Regions from separate parts of the Homo sapiens genome. Here all the other regions are reported to be linked to region 1. Evidence: microRNA targets listed by miRTarBase, many of them from high-throughput screens and not tested one by one. Region 1 holds a microRNA gene; each other region holds the end of a gene's coding sequence.
The links. Region 1 holds the annotated microRNA hsa-miR-514b-5p (UUCUCAAGAGGGAGGCAAUCAU, at 1,568-1,589, opposite strand). A microRNA usually pairs through its seed, bases 2 to 8, with sites in the 3' UTR of a target mRNA and lowers its output. Matches are read on the target gene's strand: a 7mer-m8 pairs with bases 2 to 8, a 7mer-A1 pairs with bases 2 to 7 and ends in A, and an 8mer does both.

Region 2: the mRNA of CCDC121 is a reported target of hsa-miR-514b-5p. Seed matches in the 3' UTR shown: 7mer-A1 at 2,912-2,918.
Region 3: miRTarBase lists GMNN as a target of hsa-miR-514b-5p. Seed matches in the 3' UTR shown: 7mer-A1 at 384-390.
Region 4: miRTarBase lists TMEM92 as a target of hsa-miR-514b-5p. Seed matches in the 3' UTR shown: 7mer-A1 at 2,286-2,292.

The regions. Positions count from the first base shown.
Region 1 is chrX:147,248,630-147,252,852 of GRCh38, forward strand. MIR514B (microRNA 514b) reads right to left here and starts at 1,601; the gene lies at 1,522-1,601. All of the region lies in intron 2 of LOC105373347 (periphilin-1), which reads left to right.
Region 2 is chr2:27,623,443-27,627,665 of GRCh38, forward strand. It overlaps CCDC121 (coiled-coil domain containing 121), which reads right to left. Exons shown (of 2, transcript NM_024584.5): 2 at 2,196-4,223. The coding sequence ends at 3,521. Among named protein-coding and RNA genes, the nearest start is that of CCDC121, 3.5 kb to the right of the region's middle.
Region 3 is chr6:24,785,437-24,789,659 of GRCh38, forward strand. It overlaps GMNN (geminin DNA replication inhibitor), which reads left to right. Exons shown (of 7, transcript NM_015895.5): 7 at 202-663. The coding sequence ends at 363. Among named protein-coding and RNA genes, the nearest start is that of ARMH2, 11 kb to the right of the region's middle.
Region 4 is chr17:50,278,726-50,282,725 of GRCh38, forward strand. TMEM92 (transmembrane protein 92) reads left to right here. Exons shown (of 5, transcript NM_153229.3): 4 at 76-271; 5 at 470-2,760. The coding sequence ends at 583. TMEM92-AS1 (TMEM92 antisense RNA 1) reads right to left here. Exons shown (of 4, transcript NR_125805.1): 3 at 3,743-3,826; 4 at 2,854-3,151. Among named protein-coding and RNA genes, the nearest start is that of TMEM92, 6.3 kb to the left of the region's middle.

The DNA of each region.
Region 1 (4,223 bases):
AGCAGGGCCATTATCAAAGCTCTACATAAGGAACTGTGAGCTGTGAGCTGAATCAAATGTTTAATACATTCTAGTGCTGGATTTAGAAGAAAAGAAACTAAGGGAGGGCAGTGAGTTGATGTAAAAAAGGGGACACTGTAGAGTGGCTGCCTGGGCTCAAATACAAGCTCTGCTTCTTGATAGCTGTGTGATCATAAGGCATTTATTAAAATTATTTTTCTTGTCTTATTAGTAAAATGAGAGTGGATATAACAGCTCCTACTTCATAAGGTTCTTGTAAAGATTCACTGAATTCCTGTGCATTAAGAGCTTAGAATTCATCACATAAACAGAATAAAAACAAAAACTACATGAACGCTTCTACACTGCTGGTGGGAGTGTAAATTAGTTCAACCATTGTGGAAGACAGTGTGGCAATTCCTCAAAGACCTAGAACCAGAAATAGCATTTGACCCAGCAATCCCATTACTGGGTATATACCCAAAGGATTATCAACTGTTCTATTATAAAGATACATGCACGAGTATGTTCACTGCAGCACTAGTCACAATGGCAAAGACATGGAATTCACCTAAATGCCCATAAATGGTAGACTGGATAAAGAAAATGTGGTACATATGCACCATGAAATACTATGCAGCCATAAAAAAAGAATGAGATCATGTCCTTTACAGGGAAATAGATGGAACTGGAGACCATTACCTTCAGTAAACTAGCACAGGACCAGAAAACCAAATATGGCATGTTCTCATGCATAAGTAAGTGGGAGCTAAATGATGAGAACACATGGACACATAGAGGGGAACAACACACACTGGGACCTATCAAAGGGTGGAAGGTGGGAGGAAGGGTAGGATCGGGAAAAATAACTAATGGATACTAGGCTTAATACCTGGGTGATAAAATAATCTGTACAACAAACCTGCATGACACATGTTTACCTATATAACAAACCTGCACATCCTGCATATGTACAACTGAATTTAAAATAAAAGTTAAAAAAAAGACCAGAAAAGACCAGAAATAATTACCAAAAAAAAAAAAAAAAGGAGCTTTAATACCTGGGAGAAAAAAAATACTTTGGTCTTTAGTAGGGTAAGGATCTGAGAAGGGAGGGAACTGATGGATGCCTAAGGGGAAAATCTTAAAAATGAAGAGGAATGTCGATAGGTGGTAAGTTAAGAGATTTGCAGGCTACGGTTGGGAATAGGTTCTTACAAAAGAAAAAACACTTTATAGGTGACAGGAACACCATGAAGACAGTGAAAGGCTTGTTACCATTTTGGTCAAGCAACTTTGGCAAAAGGGATCTGAATCTCAGAAGAAACTCAATGGGAAGTTTTTCCTCAGACTTTCAGTTTCTAGGTCTTACGTCTGATAATTAATTTAGAGAATTAACTGAGCTAGTCCAGAACAGGGAGGGTGTCAGTAGAAATGTCTGCATTCTAGGGAAAGTATTATACTGCTTGCAACTTAACACGCCCCGTGTATCCACCATGCCATGTCATATGATGTATATATCATGTGTTACTCCACTCACAGAGGTGTCAATCATATCTAATTACACATGATTGCCTCCCTCTTGAGAAGAGTACCACATGAAGAATAGAACACTTAAGGATGGCAGCCCAGCCTAATGACTGACTCATGCACCTTTCTTTTTATATTTTAAAAATATGTAATTGACAAACAAAATTTGTATATATTCAAGGTGTGCAATGTGATTTGATATGTATATACATCGCGTACTGATTACCATAGTAAAATTAACTAACACATCATTCACCGCTCTTAGTTACCATTTGTGTGTGTGTTGTGGGGGTGTGGTGAGGACACTTAAAATCTGCTCTCTTATCAAATTTCCAGTAAACAATTACAGCATTATTATCACTATGCTATACATTAGATAGCCAGAGCTTATCTATTACGTAACTCAAAGTTTGTACTCTTTGACCAACATGCATCTTTCAAAAACACATCATTGTTTTCAATCTGATTGGTGACTGGTGTTCATACAAAGGGCCTCTGTAGCATGCACTACACTGTCTTTCTTCATCCATCCTTTCCTGTGTTGTCCAATCATGGTTTGGAGTTATGACATGGCAATTTTCAGAACTATGAACCATTAAGCTTTTCTGCTAGACTCTCTTGTGCACGGAAGAAAAATCCTTGCATGTCTTATCCTGTTTATTTTTTCCATTATTATAAAGTGTTAGAAAGCAGTTTACATTCCTCAGGTCTAATAGTTAACAGGAAAATATACTCTATGTCATCTATGCTCGTCACCTGAAGATGAGTCCCTCTACCTGAGTTACATCCCTCAACTCCTGAACCACAGAATAAGCAGGGAAAACACACAAGATTCTAGGATAGGATGGTAATCACTGATGTGATGGAGAGTAGAAATGTCTGTTTCTCCTTAAATCCTAGAGCAAAAATAAAAATATTTTACTTACCAGGAATGAACTGCAAAACAGAAAATGTTCTTGGCATCTATGGATGCCATTAAACTTCTTCCAGTTTGTGAGATTTCTGAGTCTTTCCCTCGAGCGTGGTCTTTTCAAGCATTTTTGTTTGCATTTTTCTCCATTTGGAAACATGCAACTATGTGTCTTCATTTTCCTGGATGAACTAAATCTGGGACACCAAAATATAGTAACACAAATATGGTAAATGGATGTCAGAGAACTGGGATGGAAGAAAGAGGTGATTGTAAGTAGCCTAAAATGTGAAGTTGCTACCAGTCAAAAATTATGGTATCTTAATGGAAGAAACAAGTTCCCAGCCTTTCTCATGCACCCTACCCTTAATTTTGTGTTGCTGTGGCTAAGCAACAGGTACAGATGTTAGGGGCACTGTTCGTACACTCAGCTCACTTTCGTAGGGTGTAGGCTTTAGTGTGGTTTTGGCAGGTTGAGAATATGGGGTCTCTGATCATCATCACCCCAGAATAATCATAAAACAGAGTTTCAACCCTGGAATGAGCAGGCTGAGAAGACCAAAATCTACGACTACCAATCTTCACTCTGTACATAAAGCAGGAGTGTTGTGAAAGAAGCAGGTCGCTGCACCTTCCCAAAGCTTGAGAGCAGTGAGTCAGAGATTCTTTTTCCCAGTGTGAGAAGTGAGTTTGAATAAAAGATGGTATTATAGCTCTCCTAAAAAAAAAAATAGGACTTTATTTATAGCAGAGTCAGGGAAAGCTCAGGCTTAACGATGCTCCAGGTAACAACACAGATTTTGGAGGTAAGTAAGTAAGATGGATTTGGTAGCTGTATGAGAGCAACAAGCTAAACCACAGGCCAGCTTATTTACCAGAGTATCCGATAAACTGACAGCTAATAAGAGCCTTCCTGTATCAGAACAAACCTGAAAGACTTGCCTTTAAAACAACGTGTTCCAAGTGGCTTAAATTATTTTGATCAAACTCTGATACGTTTTTCCCTTAAAATTCAAAAAAAACGATAGAGAAAGTCAGCATTCAGTGAGAAAACCTAACATCTCTGTGTGATACACAGAGACCACTAGCTGGACAGAGAGATCAGGAAAAGAAACAAAAAGAATGCTACTAAAATCACTGTCATCTTAGAGTTACTATGTGCATACAAAGGCTGTGCTCTCTAAAGAACAGTATAAGAAAATTCACAGCAGATAAGTAAATAAACTCCAGCCAATTCAATAAACAAATTAAAAACAGACAACAACAACAACAGTAAAAGCCAGGTGCGGTGGCTCACGTCTGTAAAGCCCAGCACTTTGGGAGGCTGAGGTGGGTAGATCACCAGGTCAGGAGATTGAGACCATCCTGGCCAACATGGTGAAACCCCGTCTCTACTAAAAATACAAAAATTAGCTGGGCGCGGTGGCGGGCGCCTGTAGTCCCAGGTACTCAGGAGGCTGAGGCAGGAGAATCGCTTGAACCCAGGAGGCAGAGGTCGCAGTGAGCCGCGATCACGCCACTGCACTCCAACCTGGGTGATAGAGCGAGACTCCATCTCAAAAACAAAACAAAGAAACAAAAAAAATATAATTCCTCAGAGGAAGTGGTTATTATCCAGAATACAATATTTGATCTTAACTATCCTGTTTTACAGAAAATCATAATATGTACAAAAAAAAGATAGTGTAGTCTTTACAGATAACAAAAATATATGACAGAAAATGCCCATGAGAGGGCACAGAAATCATGCTAACAGTTAAAGACTTTATCGCAACAATTAAAG
Region 2 (4,223 bases), not on the chromosome of region 1:
GACAGTATTATGAACTTTCATACATGGTTTGGAATGCAAATTGGTACAATCACTTCAAAAGTGATTTGGCAGTATCTAGCAGAGTTGAAGATATGTACCCGAAGACTTAGCAGTTTCTCTCCTGGGTATACACAGAGTAACTCCTTTTGTCTAGGCGTACCAAGAGACACAAAAAAGAATGATTATTGCAGTACAGTTTACAGTAGAGAAATACTGAAAACAAGTATCAGAGATCTACTTTCACCTTTGCAAATTATGGGATTATAGAACAAATGGCTAGACTGTATATTTCCTAGTTATCCCCCTTCCCTCCACTCTCTCTAGTGAAGGAGAAGCCAGCTAACTCCTCTCCCATGGAATGTGAGTGGAGTGATGAATGCCACTTGCAGGTTAGAACTTTTGAGTGGGTGTACCTCCAAGCTTTCTTTACCCTTCTTCTGGCTAAATGCAGATGATGATGGGGCCCTAGGAGATGGAAGAACACAAAATGGAAGATATCTTGACCCCCTGAATCACCTGTTGAAGGAGAGCCACTTGCCAACCAGGAACATGTATCTGAGACTATTAAGTGAGCAAGAAATAAATGTCTGTTATTTGAGACATTATACATTCTTGGGTCTCTTTGTTAGCCTACTCTAATACACAATAATTATCCATTATCAGAATGGATAAATTGTGATATAGTCATACAGTAGAATACTATACAAGCTATAAAATTGAGTAGGGTTTCTCGTATCATCATGAATATGTCTCAATGTCTGGGGCCAGGCACAGTGGCTCACACCTGTAATCCTAACGTTTTGGGAGGCTGAGGCTGGAGGATCGCTTGAGCTCAGGAGTTCTAGACCAACCTGGGCAATGTGATGAAATCTCATCTCTACAAAAAAATTAAAAAAATTAGCTGGGCATTGTGGTGTGCACCTATAGTCCCAGCTAGTTGGGAGGCCGAGATGGGAGGACTTCTTGGGTCCAGGAGGTCAAGATGCTGCTATGAGCTGTGATCACACTACTGCACTCCAGCCTGCGTGACACAGTGAGACCGTCTAAAAAAATACAAAGAATATTCTGCACATCTCCTTAAAAGAGAACATTTTAGAAATTTACTCTTGCTTCATCTCTCTCTTCTTATAGCAAATCCATTAGCAAGTCCTGCCTACCACCAACTACATTTTGAATCTGTTCACTCTACTTCTGCCATTCCAATCTAAGCCATCATTACCTCTTGCCTAGACTACAGTATCTTCGTAATTGGTTTCCTTCCACTTTTTTCTGGCTTGGATACACTCCACATAACAGTTGTAGTTTTTAAAATTAGGTAAATCAGACCTCATTCACCTGCTAAAGGCCCTCGGTGCCTAAACTCCTGCTAGCCTTAATAGCCTCATCTTCCTTTCCTCCACTCATGTTCTGTGACCATTCCTCAACTATACTTTACATACACACCTTTCTGTTCCTTGAACCTACCAAGCTTATTGCCATCTTAAGGCATTTGCATTCACTGTTGCCTCTGCCTAGAATAGTTTCTTCCCCAGTTTTTGCATTGTAGGCTTCATTTTAGCAATCATAGGTCTTAAATTTCACCTCAGAGGTCTTTTCCATCTAAACTCACTTTCTGTAACATAACCCTGTGTAATTTTCTAAATAGCAAAGCAGACAAAATGCAGATTGAAATCTTAGTTGGCCAACTTGCTGCTTACTTAGAGGTATGGATTTCAAGGTATGAAATCAGTTATCATTCAACTTTTAATGTCTTCAAGCCCTCACTCTGGAAGGGACAGCCACAAGCAGTATACCATATCCATTACCTGGGATGATAAGTAAAAATGAACTGAGATCAGGTGGAAGTTACCCACTCTTGAATTAGATAATTGGGACACCAGTGGCAGGAGGGGAATTAACAGAACTAATATGCTTCCTACTTTCCAACTTTTTATCAGCCTTAGAAATACATTGTCTTAGGGTTTTTACGTCCACAGAGACTAAGCCTTCAAGTTTGTCTTGGATACCATGCTTTCCTTGTTCAGTGTTTCTGTATTTTCAGCTCACAAATTGAGATTTAGGTTAAAGTACCTGTATGCTAAAATCCTAATTTCTGCATTAAAACTAGTTTTTATTATTTGCACATGTGAATAAGACATTTAAGAGTGGTAACAGAAGAGTGATGAAGTAGAAAATGTGTTACATTGGAACAGTAATAAAATCAGTGGATAAATGTTTTTATTTAATAACATTGTTTAATAAAAAACTACATATTTAACAGAAAAGTTGTTAAAGCTACAAGGTAAAGGCACATTGAAGGAGAATGCTTTTTAAATCCAATTTTCAGGGAATTCACTTTACATGTAAATAAAGCAGAAAATGCAGGAAAATTATTTTGAAGTTTTTCATCACTTAACAATTTCTGGGAAACAAAGTTCATCCTATTTTCCCATAGAGGACCCCTGTTAAAATATAAGATTATATTCCCCTATACTAGGATTCAGCATTCAAATAAATCACTAGTCCAACTTCAATGTCGTAGAACCCAAAAAAAATATAACTATCCTAAAAATATATAATTTAAAATATAATTTATAGTTATACTAAATGGGAATAAACATATGGCACACATTAATTACAAAGGATACTTCATGTACTAGAAAGTGCACCTGTAAGAAAATTAATAAATGACCTAAAACTAAAGCATTTAGGATAACAAACATCATTTTACTTGCTATCTTTTAGAATGCTGCTAGGGAAATCGATGGCACTTAAAAAAAAAGTTGTCCAAATATTTCAACTTTTTTTGGATACGTTTTCCTGAAATAAGTGGAGGCATTCAGTCACCTCAATGCTACAGGTGTTTCTTCAAATAAAACATTTTCAAAAGTAAGAGCTGACCTAATATATGTCTCCTTCATCTTTTCTTACCTTCTCAAACTTGTAGGGGCTTAGCATCAGATGAAAGGTCACTCTGCCTAGCACTTACTGGACTTGCTGTTATCAGAATGCTTTTTCACTCATGAGAAAACTAGAAGGAGCTACCTGGTCACTGGCACAAACTCACAAAGAGCTTGTAAAAACTGCTTTTGTCTGCTAAGTTGGTCAAAAGGAATGAGGATAAACTGGCAGAACGCTATTCAAAGTCTATTTGGAATGCTATCCTTAAAGGTACTTTCTCTATAAAGAAATACAATTTAGCTAGATGAAATAAATCACAACTGTTTTCACTTCCTTAGGTTGGTTTCCTTTAGCTAGTTTGATGTATGGTAAATGGCTAGGTTAGGGTCATGTGTTAGGTTAACTGGAGGTTTGTGGAATAGCTTATTAACGAGTATTTAAAGAAAAAGCTAGTTAAGGGAAGCTGGTTACCAAATATCTAGTAGGACTGTTGGATAAAACCATCTAATCCTTCACTCCAACACATCATGATGGAGATTTTACAATAGCAATCTGGAATCCAACAGCCTTTCTAACCAGGTTAATGTAGCACTTAAGAGTACTTGCTCCAGTTCTTATTTAATCAGTGTTATTTTAGAAGTTACTTTGGATTAATCCTTGATTTGGTGCCTTGGGGAAGACTGGGTGTGGTCTTTGGAACATCCTGTCTATTTAGGCACTGATTATGACTTCCTTGCAGTCTCTGCCTCGCCTGGATTAAGGACTCCAGATACCACTGTTCCTGCTGCAGCTGCTGCTTCCTGTTTTCTAAGTGGCTTTGAGTAGCCGTTAGTTTCTGGGCTTGCTCAATTAGCTGCAGTAATTCCTTCTTGAACTGCTGGTTCTCTCTGTTGATGCCACAGGAGTATTCAAAAATAAACCGCTTTGCTGCCAACTTCAAGGCCTGGGCCTTCATATTAAGCTCTCTTCTTTTTCTCTTTCCCAGTAGCCTCCTGTCTGGCTCGCTCAGTTGTTTCTCCAGTAATCTTTTCTCCTGGAGGAGCTGGGCCTGTACTTCCCGTGTCTTTGAAGCTGTCTCAGCTTGGACTTTCTTTGTCTCCTCCTGTAATGTCTGTATTTCTTTCTCCTGCTTTTCCTTTAATATAGCAATGTCCCTCATTGCCTGCAACTTCCGCTTCAAACTGGATTGGATATTTTCCTTTTGCAAGAGCGCTGTTTTAAGCACTGAAATTTGTTCTGCATATCTGGAGGCTGATTCTTGTCTTCTTCGTTCAATCTCTCCACTTTTTTGTAAATAGCTGTTCCATACCTTCTCAGGTTGCTCTGTGTACTCTTCAGTTTTG
Region 3 (4,223 bases), not on the chromosome of region 1:
TAAACACTTTGACTTTGCTGACTATGATCTAGCATGGTAGAGACTTTGATATAATACTGTTTATAAATGAATTTATTGAGGGGCAAGATGAAAAAAATCTCATAGCTATATCAGTATGCTATACGGGTCAGCTATATCAGTATGCTGATCAGCTTAGGTTTTAACATTTTTACAATAAATTATTGGTTTATTCTTTAAAAGAGACTGAATGGTGAACCTCTGGATAATTTTGAATCACTGGATAATCAGGAATTTGATTCTGAAGAAGAAACTGTTGAGGATTCTCTAGTGGAAGACTCAGAAATTGGCACGTGTGCTGAAGGAACTGTATCTTCCTCTACGGATGCAAAGCCATGTATATGAAATGCATTAATATTTGACTGTTGAGAATTTTACTGCCGAAGTTTACCTCCACTAGTTCTTTGTAGCAGAGTACATAACTACATAATGCCAACTCTGGAATCAAATTTCCTTGTTTGAATCCTGGGACCCTATTGCATTAAAGTACAAATACTATGTATTTTTAATCTATGATGGTTTATGTGAATAGGATTTTCTCAGTTGTCAGCCATGACTTATGTTTATTACTAAATAAACTTCAAACTCCTGTTGAACATTGTGTATAACTTAGAATAATGAAATATAAGGAGTATGTGTAGAAAATTTGTCTGTTTCTATGCTTTTATGTTGTTCTCTTTCCATTCTTTTGCTAACTACCTTGGAGGAGACAAGGAGAAAACGAACTTAAAGTATTTAGACTGAGATAGCTGAGGTTTTTAACTCCCAAACTTTGTTGTACCTCAAGCTCATTGTAGACACTATTGATATTAACAAGTTGTTTTTGGAATGGAGCATGAGAATCTATTTTCCAAAAGCTTTTCAAGTGAATCTGATTAGACAGTGAGAGGCCCAACTGGCTAGCAGGATCAGACTCTTCTTGGAAGCTTAAAATGATGGATGATGGTGATAATCCTCAAGAAACAAAGTGAGGAGTGGGTAGAAGTTTGACGGAAAAAATCAGGAATAGCTGAAAATTATGGAGCTTTTCTATTTCACATATTGGTATAGTGCAAAGTATGTAAATATTGAAGAATAAGAGTAGGGTCAGATTCATTAGGGATTTCCCATATATACTAAGTTTTGAAGGAGGAAAAGTACAAACTAGGGGTATGTAGCATTGGAACTGAAAAAGTTCTGTGAGAGGCATACAAGTAGTTTTGTATAAATTGGCAATAAAGAGCAATGTCATGCTTTTATTTTTTTTCCTTTGAGACGGAGTCTTGCTCTTGTTGCCCAGGCTGGAGTGCAATGGCATGATCTTGGCTCACTGCAACCTCTGCCTCCCTGGTTCAAGTGATTCTGCCTCAGCCTCCTGAGTAGCTGCGATTACAGGTGCCTGCCACCACACCTGGCTAGTTTTTGTATTTTTAGTAGAGCCGGGGTTTCACCATGTTGGCCAGGCTGGTCTCGAACTCCTGACCCCAAGTGATCCGCCCACCTCAGCCTCCCAAAGTGCTGGGATGACAGGTGTGAGGCACCACGCCTGGCCTCAAGCTTTTGAAAGGATTGTTTTAGGTAAGCATCCTTATAGAACCTTAATTTTCTCTCTCTGTCACCCAGGCGGGAGTGCAGGGGTGCAATCTCAGCTCACTTCAGCCTCCACCTGATGGGCGCAAGTCATCTTCCCACTTCAGCCTCCCAAGTAGCTGAGACTACAGGTGCGTGCCACCACACCTGGCTAATTTTTTATATAGACGGGGTTTCGCCATGTTGCCCAGGCTGGTCTTGAATTCCTGGCATCAAGCGATCCGCCTGCTTCGGCCTCCAGAGTGTTGGGATTACAGGCGTGAGCCACCGTGCCTGGCCTTAATTTTCTTTAATACTGAGATAAAGCCTACCTCATAGTGTTATCGTGAAGATTAAAACCTTTAGTGTCTAGGCTAAGTGTCTTAAAAATGGAAGCTATTATTAATCTATAACAACATTGTCCAGTAGAACTTATTGGGATGATGAGAATATCTGCTGTACAGTATGGTAGCCATTTCTGTGTGGCTGTTTAGCACTTGAAGTGTGGCTAGTGTGAATGAGGTATGGACATTTTAATTTAAGTCACTACAAGAAGCTAGTGGCAATTACGTTAGTGTGGCTCTGTGTGTTTCAGGTGTGGATCACTAGCCTAAAGATAGGATTAATAGGTAAATTAATTTTAAAGGAATTGAAGAATATTCTGGATTAGAGCATGAGGAGACTCAGTTGAGAGGCCTTTAGCATGGTTAAGAAAGAAAATAGGTAAGTAGAATAGGGACTTGACAAATAGAAAGTATTTTTGTAAAATGCCAGAATTTGATGGTGGGGAGCAAAAGGAGAGGGAATTGAAGGGGATTAAAAAACTAAGGTAGTAGCTAAAACCATAAAACTTCTAGATTATATAGAAAAGTTCTTAGTGACTTTGGGTTTGGCAGAGAGTTCTCAAATAGGACACAAAAAAGCATCAACTTCAAATTAAACGTTGTAAATTTTAAAAACTTTTTGAAAGACAAGCAAATGAAAAGGCAAGAACAGACTGGGGGAACATATTTGCAGAACATAGCCAACAAAGGATTTGTATCTATAAAGAACTAGGGTATGTATGAGATGGAAACTAAGTGCATGAAAAGATGCTCAACATTAGTCATTAAGGAAGTGCAAATTAAATGACAACCAGATACTGCTACATACCTTTCAGAATTGTTTTAAGTTTGAAAAATAAAAACAACTCCATCGAGTGTTAAGGATGTGAAACATCTGAAACCCTCCTGCAGTGGTGGTGGCAGTGCTAAATGCTACAACTGCTGTGGAAAAGTTGAACAATTCCTTAAAAGTTATACATACACATTTTATATGACTCAGCCATTCCACCCCTGGGTATTTACCCAAGAGAAACGAAAGCATATGTCCACATGAAGACTAGTTCACACATTTTCATAGCTTTATTTGTAATAGCCCAAATATCCATTGGTAACTGAGTGGATAAATTATGGTATAACTATACAGTGGAATACTATTTAGCAATAAAAAGGGGACAAAAATTGGTACACGCCACATGGACGAATCTCAATGTTGTGTGAAAGAAGCCAGGTAAATACATACTGTATGCTTCTATTTATTTAAAATCACAAAACTACAAAGTATAATGAGAAAGCAGATTAGTAGTTGCCTAAGGGTCATGTAGGGGCTGTTTTGGGGGACATATTTTAAGCTTCTAGTCCCTGGGAACTGACCCTAGTGATGGAGAATTTGTAGGAATTTCCTGTGGAAGATGAGTCTGATTTTTAATTAGGTATCAAATGTTAGTATAGCATGTCAGCCGGGTGTGATGGCTACGCCTGTAATCCCTACACTTTGGGAGGCTGAGGCAGGCAGATCACTTGAGGACAGGAGTTCAACATCAGCCTGGCTAACATGGCAAAATGCTTTGTCTACTAAAAATACAAAAGATTAGTTGGGCGTGGTGGTGCACACCTGTAGTCACAGCTCTTCGGGAGGCTGAGGCACACAAGAATTGCTTGAATCTGGGAGGCAGAAGTTGCAGTGAGCATAGATTGCGCCACTGCACTCCAGCCTCGGCAACAGAGTGAGGCTCTGTCTCAACAAAACAAAAAACATGTCAATGAAAATACCTTGGAGAAGGGGTCAGGGAGTCAATCAAGCCTGGCCCATTAGAACAAGTTCTTTGAAGTTGGTTTAATAAAATGCAGTCGAGCTTCGTTAAGGAAATGGCAAATGGATAAGAATCAGTTGGAAAAACAGTATGCATGAAGCCTGGATTAGACTGAACTAATTTGTCAATATATTTTACAAGGCTAGCATAACTGATATCAAGATTTGAGGATGGACCAGCCAGGTGTGGTGGCTTATGCCTGTAATCCCAGCACTTTGGGAGGCCCAGGTGGGCAGATCACCTGAGGTCAGGAATTCAGGACCAGCCTGACAAACATGGTGAAAACCTGTCTACTAAAAATACAAAATTAGCCAGGCGTGATGGTGCATGCCTGTAGTCCCAGCTATTTGGGAAGCTGAGGCAGGAGAATTGCTTGAACCCAGGAGGTAGAGGATGCAGTGAGCCAAGGTCGCGTCTTTGCACTCCAGCCTGGGCAACGAGCGAAACCTCATCTCAAAAAAAAAAAAAAAAAAAAAAAAAAGAAGGTAATGAGGATGGACCGTAAGGTTGGAGTAGGGGAATC
Region 4 (4,000 bases), not on the chromosome of region 1:
GCGGGAGCGGGGAGATGTAGGGAGTCCCCAGGGTGGCCTGGGGACTCAGGGTACTCTTGGTGGTCCCCACCCCAGGATCTTCGTCATCATCTTCCTGGTCATCCTGTCCGTCTTTTGCATCTGTGGCCTGGCTAAGTGCTTCTGTCGCAACTGCAGAGAGCCGGAGCCAGACAGCCCAGTGGATTGCCGGGGGCCCCTGGAACTGCCCTCCATCATCCCCCCAGAGAGGGTCAGAGTATCCCTTTCTGCGCCCCCACCCCCCTACAGTGAGGTGGGTGTCTCATCCCCATCCCCACCTTGCCTCTGGCCGGCTGTGCAGCAGAGACAGTGGAGGGCCCTTCGATCCTGGAGGGCACTCTGCACCCAGCATTGGGTCACCCCTCTCCCTGGTAACCATGCCTCAGCTGGGATGGGGGAGTGGTGGCCAGGGCCAGGGCCCAGAAGACTGAATTCTCTCTTTTCCCTGCAGGTGATTCTGAAGCCCAGCCTGGGCCCAACTCCCACAGAGCCACCCCCTCCCTACAGCTTCAGGCCTGAAGAATATACCGGGGATCAGAGGGGCATTGACAACCCGGCCTTCTGAGTCACCTCCTGCCTGGAATCTTGCCATCAGCAACCTCCTCCCCAGTGCCTCCTGGATCAAGCTAGAGACTGCTGGCACCCCAGGAATGTCCCTGCCCATCCTGCCGTGTCTCTGTTCATTCTTGGATTTAACTTATTACTTTTTCTGCTTCTGTTTCCACCCCAGCTGCCTCTCTTGTCCTGAGGGTTAGGCTGGAGTGACAGTTTCCGCCCACCCCCCAGCCCAAGAAAGAGGCTGCCGGAAAGAAAATGCTGACCATTGGAGGTGCCCAACAGTAGAATGGGCTACTGTGAGGGGTAGTAAGAGCCCCATTTCTGGAGGTATGCAAATCTTGACTGGACAGCCAGCTCTGAGATTTTATCAGGGCACTTCTATACCTGTGGGACATTGGACTGGATGAGCCCTGAGCCAGCTTCCACTCCTACCTGAATAGAGAACTCACTGCACCCACCCACAACACATGATAAACACATGTCCTCACTGAATGTTACTGATTGCGGCTGAGGGCCTGCCTCTGGCTGTGTGGGGAGGTGGGTGGAGAGGTGAGCCCAGGCACTGCTGAGGGGTGCGGTGATGGGGTCGCTGCGCCGCAATCCCACCACTGATGAGCCACCTGGGAGGTCTGGGAGGACAGTCCATCCATGGGCCGCCCTCGGAGAGAGGCTTGTTCTAGATGTATTGGCTGTCTGTTTTTTGATGTCTCTGTGTGCCAAACAGCCTGGAAATGGGGTACGCGTGTCCCTTGTGTGGGTTTCCCAATCCCTTCCGCCCAAGGCTTTCCTGGGACACATGGAGCCCAGCTCTCTGGCTGTCTTACCATGAGAAGTTGGTAAGTTGGCTGTGAGGGGGTTGGATCCAGGAAGCAGCCCTGGGACAGCCCATTCTGCTGTTGATAGCAGGAAACCACCTGCTGGGAGACAATGGGGGTGGGGAAAAGCCCAGGAGAGCAGTGGGTGGGGCTGGGCATCCGTGGAGTGGGGCTTTAGGAGACCTTGAACGGCCCCACCCTGGAATCTCCTACAGGAAGGTGAGGAGGTGGCAGGTTCCACCCTTCTCTACCAGCCCCGCTCGCTCGTGGGAGTTAACCCCCTAGGGGAGAAGAGTCTTCACTGGGGTTCGACCCATGGGGGCCTGGCATAGTCATGCAGAATGGGGCGGGACAATGCCAATGCCTTGGGACTCAGACAGGGCTGAGTGCCTCCACCCTGATTTTTGCCTCTGCACTGCGCCCCCACAGCCCACTCAATGCCAGCCTCCTTCTCCAGGCAGAGAGCCCCATGTCAATGCTGGCCAAAGCTCTCAGGAGGATTGGAGGTAGAACTGGCCCTGGTATGCCAACAGGGGTGCCTCTTTTAGTGCTCTCCCAATAATGCTCATCCTGGGGGCATCAGGACGCAGGCAGGTGGCAGAGCTGGGGGCAGCTTGATGGCACAGGCAGCCCCAAAGATGCCAGGAACAGGGACTGTCCGGGTGTGGGTTCCCAGTGAGATAGGGCCCTGGAAGGAGTGCAGCAGTTACTGACAATATAGTGCCAGGGTTGGCCATAGGAGAATGAGCCCAAGCGTAAGTGGAAGTTTCCCTTTACTTTCAGGGATTGGTCAGGGGTGGCAGAAAACATGTGGGTTCTTTGTGTAGATGTGGCTAGTTCCAATTAGAGAAGTCCTGCAGCTGATGTTGCCCTCACCGTGATAGCAGGAGGATGTTGAGAAATGGGCTTGGGAGACCTGGAGGAGAAGTTACCCTCGGCCCAGACGTTGCCTTCCTTTCATCACAGGGCCTTTAACTCCTCCTAGGGAGTAGCAGAGTGGCCCTAGGGAAAGTGGCCATCCTGAAACCTAGTGTTGCTGTGACCTGGTGACAGAAATGGAAACCTCTGTGGCTCTTCTGGTCATCCTTGGTGGGAGTGGGAATGGTGTCACCTTTCTAGAGGGCCATCTGGCACCATGTAATCACGCCACAGATCTTTACGAAGCTCCTGCTATGTAGGAAACACTATGCCTGGCACTGGGTATCCATTAAAATGTAAAATGCACGTGACCTGGCAATTCCACTTCTAGAAATGAGCCTTCAGAAGTGCTCATACAAAAGAGCTCAATAAGTATCATGCACTAATTCATTGTGCCACCAGAGCTCCCTATGCAGCCTTTTAAAAGAATAAATAGGATCTGTAGCACCAACCCTGCAAAGCATCCATCACTTATTGTTACAGAGAAAAGGCAAGTTGCGGAACTGCCTATGATCTCAGTTTGTAAGGATATAACCCACACATATTTTATTTTATATATGTATATTTTTTCTTTGCAAATATGTAGATAAGATCTAGAAGGATGTAAGTCAATCACTCACCACACTTCCAATAGTTGTTGGCCCCAAGAGTGGGATGTAGGTAGCAAATTGCAAGCGGGTCTTCTTCCTTTGTATGCTTTGGCACTGTGTGTTTTTTACAATCAGCAAGCATTGCTTTTGTAAATTTAGAGATTTGTTTACGGGAAACTGTAGGCAGCTTTAGAAGTTTATGAAGATTTGCCTTGTGAACTTTGATCAATGGCAACTGATAAATTATCAGCCCTGGTATGTGGAAGAGAATACAAGGACTTTAGACTGTGGTACCCACCTGACATGGATGTGACCCAGGGGACAGACACATGATGGGAAAGCCTGGATGCCTGCCAGACATACATGAAGCCCACATCTCAGACCTATGCAGGACTTATGAGGTGTATAATGAATGACAGAAACAGTGAGCTGGCTAGTTGGGTGAATGAGCAGTTTCACAGTGACGGAGAATTTCATCCCTCGTGGCTGGTTTAGTTGCTCAAACCCAATGAGTGAATAATGAAAGATGGAATGAATGAATGAAGATTAAATGGGTGCATGAATGAATGAATGAATGAATGAATGAAGAGATCTGCCACCAGATATTTGTAAAGAAACACAGTCTAGTTAACATCAAGGAGATGTTCCTCGTGGCTGTGCAGTTGAATTTCTATCTGCAGGGACTCCCCAGAGGACAGGGAAATGCAGGAAAGGCTGTAGGGTGGGGGGCATGTTGAAGCAGGAAGGCCTTAAGGCACTTGCTCCAGGGATGCAGGAGGGGAGGAGAAAGGGGCTGCTGCTGAGGGAAGTGAGGAGAGGGATAAACACCAGCAGGAATCTTACCTCACCTTCCAGCTGAGATGCAGGACTCCAGCTTCTGACATTTCGCCTTCTGCATCCAACATCTCCAGGCGTTGGTGTGCCCATCTGTACAGTGAAGAGCGTGGCCCCTTCTGGCTCTGGTAGGACGTAGCTCTGAATCCAAAGTTGGGAAGGGGCCCAACACGGTAGCTCATGCCTGTAATCCCAGCACTTTGAGAGGCTGAGGTGGGTAAATCACTTGAGGTCAGGAATTCGAGACCAGCCTGGCCAACATGGTGA